2 linked regions of the Homo sapiens genome follow. The protein of the gene in region 2 interacts with the protein of the main gene of each other region in a pairwise test. Each region holds a gene or a part of one and is shown on either strand. Other genes may lie near its edges.

Region 1 (3,826 bases), on a different chromosome or scaffold from region 2:
GAAGATGTTTTACTCTGGTATACCATAGCAGTTAAGAAATAAGGAATGCTTCATAGATTATTTTATGCATTTCCTTCTCAGTGGAAACAAATCCCTCACCATACAGTACTGAAATGGCATTGTCAACAATGGACAGAAAGGTCTTGCTTCTCCTAGGCATCAAGGAAATACATTAAAACCTGCCGACTCTTAGGTCTAGGAATCTAACTAAGAAAATGCCAATTCTAGTCTCTGAAACCTTTGAAATACTAACAATCTACACTTTCTAGTCAATCATACTTCTGTCAGAACATCTTCCTGAAGATCAAAGGTAATATTCAATACACTGCCTTACCATAAAAGTGGCCATAGCCTGTGTACAAATGCTATGCCTCAAATCCTGTATTTTACCATGAAATTCAACAAATGATCACACTTGGCCTTAGGATGTACTCCTGAGCCAGAAGCATGGTAAGTACTCATAAATAACTGAATAAATAAATAAGGATTGTGTTTTACTTCGAACCTCAAAACAAAAAAAGAATAAGCTGGAGGAATAATGTAGAGTACTCTTTGCTTTCCAAGAATGGTCGTAATAGAGGCCATGGAATAAGAGATTGTTTTCCAAGTCAAATGCAAAGAAGGGCCACGAGATTAAAAACGTCAACTCTAATCCAATGAATGCTGCCAATGAAACCTCTGAAGAGACTAGCATTTTAAAGAATTACATTACAGACTCTTAGCCTGTGAAGCATGTCAGACATAATCTAGAGTTTAGACTTGGCTCTGGCTCTAAAGGAATTCTCAACAAAACTGAGAGGCACCATAAATAGAAAGAGATATTACAAGAACAATGAGAGGGGACTGGATAGTTGCAATAATGCCCCTTTAAAATTGAACTAAAAGATACCAGCTGCCTTAGATCTCTCAAATCCAGCAAGCAACTTCTTGGACTATGTCTGATTGTGATTTTCATGGTGGAGTTTCATTTGTTTTATTACCCGAAATGTAAGGTTCCAATTTCTCAGTATAATGCTAAACAGCTTGCTAGCATTCTTATATAAAGAGGGATTGTGCAATTCCAGTGAATTTTGGAGTTGGAAAAAATTCATCAATCTTCTCATTTATTTCAATGAACTGAGTCCTAAGAGGTTACGTGTTTAGCAGTGATCAAGAACCCTGGAGTTACATACTATGGGTGAACGTAGAACTGCTTGCTGCGTGTATGGCCATGAGCAAATTTCTTAACCTCACAATCAGTTTCCTCAACTATAAAATGCAGGTAATAATATCAACACTTTCAGGATTATAGAGGAGGATCATACAAAACACAAATACTTAGCAGCATGCTGTATAAATAGTAAAAATGGTCAATAAATAATAATTGTTATTATTGCTATTTTATCAGTAGTGCCTGGCAATTAGTAAGCATTAGTAAATGCTTACTAATGTCACTAATTAGTAACACTACTGTTTTATATTAATTACTTTTTTCTACTGCCCAACATGGCAGAGGTTATTTAAGTGTTAGAGCTAGAACATGGATAGCTAAATCTCTCATCTCTTTTTCTAAAGACTTGTATTCAAGTCATGAAAACAGGATTCCCTTTCATAATCATAGGTTGAGTAGCATTAGTCAAGAATTTTGCAGGAGAAAAGAGCCACAATTTCTGTTTAATGGTAGTCTGTTTGTACCATTGTTATGCATAAAACCAAGAAGTAAGCATTTTTCTTACAGTGGAGAACTAACTCATTGAAAGATTGCATAGCACAAATGGTGAAATATTGCAGCTTCCTGAGTTAAACCAACATCTTTTTGATATAATGTCGATCTTTTGTGGACTTACGCTTTAGCAACTAGATACAAATATAAGGAAGTAGTAAAGCACTGCGGAAAATAGTGCAAGATTTCTTGTTTGTTCATTTTTTTCATTTTTGCTTTTTCATTTGTTTTTGCTTTTTCTTTAGAGCAGTGCCTCCCAAACTGTAATGTGCATATGAATCACCCGGGGATCCTGTTACAATGCAGTCTGCTGCAGTAGGTCTGAGGTCTGGCCAGACATTCCACATTTCTAACAAGCTCCCACGTGGTGCTGATGCCGCAGGTCAGAGGACTTCACTGTGAGTAGCAAGGCAGCGCTGGACTAACTTGGTTGAACTCATGAGTGATTATAACAAGGTAGGTGTTTAGGAGGCAGAGCCCAAGGAGGAACAGGCAAGACTTCTGTGCCAAGGCTGAGCAGATGCTGGTAACCTCAGGTGCAATACAAACCCGGCTGGGGAGAATTGAGTAGCTCAGGACCTGTCAGTGTCTCAGGAGCCATATGCCAGATGCACATCTGCCAAGACTTCTTGCTTTTCCTAAGAAGACATGGTTCTAGTTATTTGGTCCCTTTTATCAAGAAACTGGCAATGGTGCTTTCTCCCATCAACAGAAGTCATTTGGATTAAGGATTACAAGAGGTGCCAAGAGATAATTTAAAAGAGTTATTTGCATTATATGTTTTTTTTTACAATTGTAAAAGACTCACATGTTTTGGAAACTTTTTGTACATTGTTTTGCAAACTTTTATGCATCTGGAATTATTTCAAAGTGAAAAGTTTTTTTTAAGTCTCTAAAAAGACTAAATCTCTTTTAAATCTCTAAAAAGACCAAAATTCTGGAGTTTTCTACCTTTCCACATCTCTTGAAAATTTATATATTTTTTCCTCCCCATTGAGAATATTTTCCTGACATTTGCACTAAATGTTTGTTGCTTACTCTCATGCTAGTAAGTACTACCCAGCCTGTTCCCTCTAAGTTCTGAAGGCAGCTCCAACACTTGATTACTGGAATATGAAATCTATCCTCTTTTGAAAAAAAGGCAGATCAGAAACATCCTTCCCTCACTGCTCTAGATACCATTTTTTTCTACCTGAACTCCCAAAGCATGTATAGGTTATACTACACTACTTAATAATTATATTGTCTTTCATTTTTATCCTCTTTTCTAGTAAAGATTATTGTGTTAATTTTAAAAATGGAGTTTACATATTGTTTCTTCTGTGTTTGGTATGGTCTCCAGCACAAGGCTGGGCATGGAGTAGAAATAAAACTGATATTTGTCAGGGAAGGGACTGACTTACTTACCCAGGAAACTAGGCCTGGGTAGTCTTTCTTCAAAGTCAGTATCTTCATAACAATGAATAAGTAATCCACAGATACCACTTCAGAAAACAGGCTTAATCCAGTGTTCTCCTAGATAAGCAAATCAGTCTAAGCAGAAAAATCTATCCTAAATTTGTGTAAATGTCTTAGAGTTACTTAGATTCCTATGACATGCAGTTCCAATCACAAGCTCTGGGTTCACATTCCATTGGCTCTAATCAGGGTCCACCATGAGTTAACACGGTCATATGACTGAGCCTCAGAGTCCCCACCTGGTAAATGGGGATGACGAGAGTGGAGTGCCCACCTCAAAACTTCATTGTAGATTAAATGAAGCAGTCCCTGCAAAGCACCTAGCAAGGATGTTGGAACATACCAAGTGCTCAGTAAACGTTAGGGCTGAGTATTCCTCCTTAGGTGAAATGAAGAAGAATGGATATGATAACTAGAAAATCATCTACATTAAAAGGTGGAGTTCAATAAGCTATACTTTCAGTACAGCAGGGATAAAGGAGATGAGGAAGCAAAAAGTAAGTTATGTCTTCACATCTAATTTTTCCCAGGATTGAAGAAACTTAAAAGATTTGCCTGAAATGCCACTAAATTGCTGCATACCACATTAATTTTGCTCAAATGCTAAATACTTTATCATTTCCATAATGAAGAAAGAAAGGGAGGAAAGGGAAGGAGGAGGGAAGA
Region 2 (3,826 bases):
TGACTATTTACTCTGACTCTATGACACACTGATAATGTACTGGCTTCTTGTGAATCTATTTTCTATTTTGAACTATATAAAAGAAATCCATTAATGGATAAAGGAGTTAGTCATTCAGTGACTGTTTAAAGCTCTGACAAGTTTAAACAAGAAAAAAAATTACTACAACATAGCCATTAGCTTCTGCTCTTGAAATGCAAACCAACAGTTAATGAAACAGATCTTCTGTAAAAATGGGTGAAAAATTTGAAGTTACTAAGGTATACCTGAGAGTTCAAGTTTGCTCCAGGAAGCCCAAGTGCAGCAAGGGCAGGATCAAGAGTAGGAGCCCCCAAAGCAGCCAGTGGAACAGCGCCAATCTGTGAAATGGCAAATTTTATTTATTTAAAACTTCATTTCAGTTCCTTATACCAGGGGTTAATACTTTTTTAATGTAAAGGGTCAGATAACAACTTGAGTTTTCAGGCTACATGGTCTCCGTACAACTCCTCAGTTGTACACAAACCATATAACTACTGCCATCATAGCTTGAAAGCAGCCAGAGACGATACCTAAACAAATGGCTGTGGTCCAATAACAATCTATTAACAGAAATAGGAGTCTTGCTCTATATGACACCCATGTTCCACCCATTACAACACATTTCCCCCCTAAATCCTAGATTAAGAAAAAAAGACAAAATATTTCAACATATTCTTGTGCTGATTTTAATTATTTATTGCTTCTCAGGATCCAAATCTACTATTCTTTGCCCTGCTGTTTTGTGCTACCGGAGGCAGGACCTTTACAAAGCATTTCTCCTTTGACAGTTGCCATGATATAAGACTTCATTTGGAAAGAGTGCTGGAAGGACACTGACTAAGAAAGGGGCTCTTCCTGGTTGCTGTGTCCCCTTTCTGATTATTCCTGCAGCACCATGTCAAACACCCAGTAGCCCTCGCCTCTCAGTAAGTTTTAATACCAACTCCTTATGCAGCTCCCCAGGGCACCCAAGAGAACTTATTTACTAGTCACCCTTCCAAAAACAAATCTAAGTTTCAGCATAGATGGGGAAAGAGGAGTCCCCTGAACTAAATGGGTGTTCCTTCTGCTTCAGCCTCAGAGGTAGTGGTTGTTTCTTATACTTGTGATTCCTGTATTCATTAGAGTTCCCCTAGTAATCTCCTATAACTAGTTAGTAATTCCTTAAATGTTCCCTGTTCAAATCACTGCAGGGTTCTGCCACCTGCTTGACACCAATTCTGATTAATCCATAATGTAATAGACACAAACCATGAAAGTGAGGCTACTTTAAAACCATCTGTAGCTTTTGAAACAGCCTCACTTTCTCCACCTGTGCTACAAGTTCTCCTTGTTTCAATTTATTTAGTAAACACAAACTATCAAACTTTCTATAATTTAACTGTTTATTCGTAACAGGCAAAATGCTGTGTTAATACTATTTTAACTTACTGTCCAACATAGCTATTGCATAGCTTTATACATTAAAGGAATTTAGAAAATTACCCAGATCTGGACTGGGCGCGGTGGCTCACGCCTGTAATCCCAGCACTTTGGGAGGCCAAGGTGGGCAGATCACTTGAGGCCAAGAGTTCAAGACCAGCCTGGCCAACATGGTGAAACCCCATCCCTACTAAAAATACAAAAATTAGTCAGGCATGGTGGCATGCCTGTAGTCCTAGCTATTCGGGAGGCTGGGGCAGAATCGCTTGAACCAGGGAGGTGGAGACTGCGGTGAGCCGAGACTGTGCTATTGCACTCCGGCCTGGGTGACAGGGCGAGACTCTGTCCATCTCAAAAAAACAAAAACAAACAAAACAAAAAACAAACAAAAAAAAACAAAACAAAACAGAACAAAGAATAAAGAAAATTACTCAGATCCTCATTTTATAGGTTAAAAGAAATAACCTAGGAGTTAAGTGATAAAAGTCACACCTAAAAAGCTTAGGAACTCCTAATCTTTCATTCTATAGTGCACTTCACAGTTAAGAGTCAATTAGTCAATTATTTAGACAGGCAAAATGATACACTAGAAAGAATGCTTTTATAAATTTCCAGTTGAGGCTCATTCACTACAATCTTTGAAACTACTGACCAGTTACAATCTCAGTAATTAGAATACACAGTATTTAAAGTGCCTTTTAGTTCTAAAATAAGCTTCGTACAGCACTGTCAGTGTTAGAAACACTATTGCAACCAATTTTCTTTCACATTCCCATATCAAACATCTCCATCAAGAATTGCCTTTGTTTTCAAGCCACCTATGTAATTCAAAACCCCCCAAATAACAGGAAAAGATAAAGGGGAAGGAAAAAAAAATGAAGGGCTCACTTGTGAAATTTTAACTTCAGTTTTCTTTCCTGGTCCAAATGAATATATTTTTAACAGTGTGTTCAGAGAAGTGTTCATGCCTCAGGAGACTGTTCCAAAACTACTCATGGGTTATTTTGAGAGCCAATGGTAAAAGTGACAGAACAGATATTTTATGATTTTTCAGAATGTTCTTAAAATACAAAAGTCTAAGAGATCTTCTATACTATTTGTGATTTTGATATAGACATGTGATAATGCTATCTGAACTAGAATCTTATGAGTACTTACAAAGTTCAAATATGTTTAGCTTTATGCACAATTCTGTTTTTTTCCCCACCCTTTAAGAATTCAATAGAACTAGTACCTGGGTAAGTGGGTTAGGAGTAGGCAGGAGTCCACCACCAGGCAGAAGACCTGCCACTGCATTAGCTGGTGCCAACAGAGACAAAGCTTTAGCTTCATCAGGAATAACTCCTGCAGAGAAACATCCTTGCATTAGAACACATTCTTTTCTAAGACAGAAAACACACAAAAACACCCAGAAAATGTCTCCCTGATACACCACCTGAGTTTGTTGAAAGTACTTATGTTCGCTAAAATACAAAGCTTGATTTCTATGATTATTTATCATTAATTTTATGTCAGAATGAACTTCAATGTGTGAAAATTTGTTTCCTTTTTCTCTACAAATGGTTAAGTTTCTAGAGTAAAAAAAAATAGCACAATACACACTACTTTTTTGTTAACACTGCCAAGATTTCATCACCTGTACTCGATTTTTAAGTCATGAACCAAACGTAAGCAAGCACAGTCGGTTCTCCAGGGGTGTGCTCTCAACTTTCAAAAGCTGTTTTATGAACAACGACTCGTGTCGGCTGCTTCACTATAAAGCACACAGAAAAATCAAGATACACAAGACAAAAAAAGTTTGATTTAGGGGTTAATAATATGGTACAGTTACTATGATTTTCTTTTACACCTACCATACAAATTTTGTAAAAATTAAGAGAAGAAAGTATGTAAAGGAAATATTCTGTTGGAATCAAGCGTAGGGCTTTTGCTGACTCATGAAAATGAATATGAATGTTTCTGAAGGTCTCTGAATACACACAGGATGTGTGCATGGGAGTGAGAGAGAAAGAGAGATAGGTAAAACAACATGGCACATTCCTTACCTGTACAGTAAAATGCTTTATGTTTCGCCATGTGCCATGCTAACCATACCAAAAAATGCTGCCATACAGTGCCAGTTGAAAAGCTAACTTAGCCAAACTCCTTAAGCCAAAAATGACATATATATCTGTTTTTAAAGCCTAATCTGTGTATTCAGATAAAATCTAAGGGTCCTAAAACAAATATTTATGTAGACAATTTAAATTCTATCCAACAGCAAAAGCCCTATACAGATGGATTAATCTGTTAATGTGCCCAAGCCCCCAAAATGAGAGTTCAATAATACAATTAAACTACATATTTGCAAATACCAGTAGTATTTCTGTAATACATATTAAGA

The links.
Region 1: the proteins of SRSF11 (region 2) and ETS1 interact in a two-hybrid assay, tested with the Homo sapiens proteins (one large-scale study listed by BioGRID and IntAct).

What each region holds. Positions count from the first base shown.
Region 1 is NC_000011.10:128,581,050-128,584,875, forward strand, and holds part of ETS1 (protein C-ets-1), read right to left. Parts: exon of another isoform or gene 1,948-3,826; intron 1-1,947. UniProt on the Homo sapiens protein: Transcription factor. Directly controls the expression of cytokine and chemokine genes in a wide variety of different cellular contexts. May control the differentiation, survival and proliferation of lymphoid cells.
Region 2 is NC_000001.11:70,231,229-70,235,054, reverse strand, and holds part of SRSF11 (serine/arginine-rich splicing factor 11), read right to left. Parts: exon of another isoform or gene 2,945-3,826; coding exon of another isoform or gene 2,788-2,944; coding exon 2,678-2,787; intron 360-2,677; coding exon 267-359; intron 1-266. UniProt on the Homo sapiens protein: May function in pre-mRNA splicing.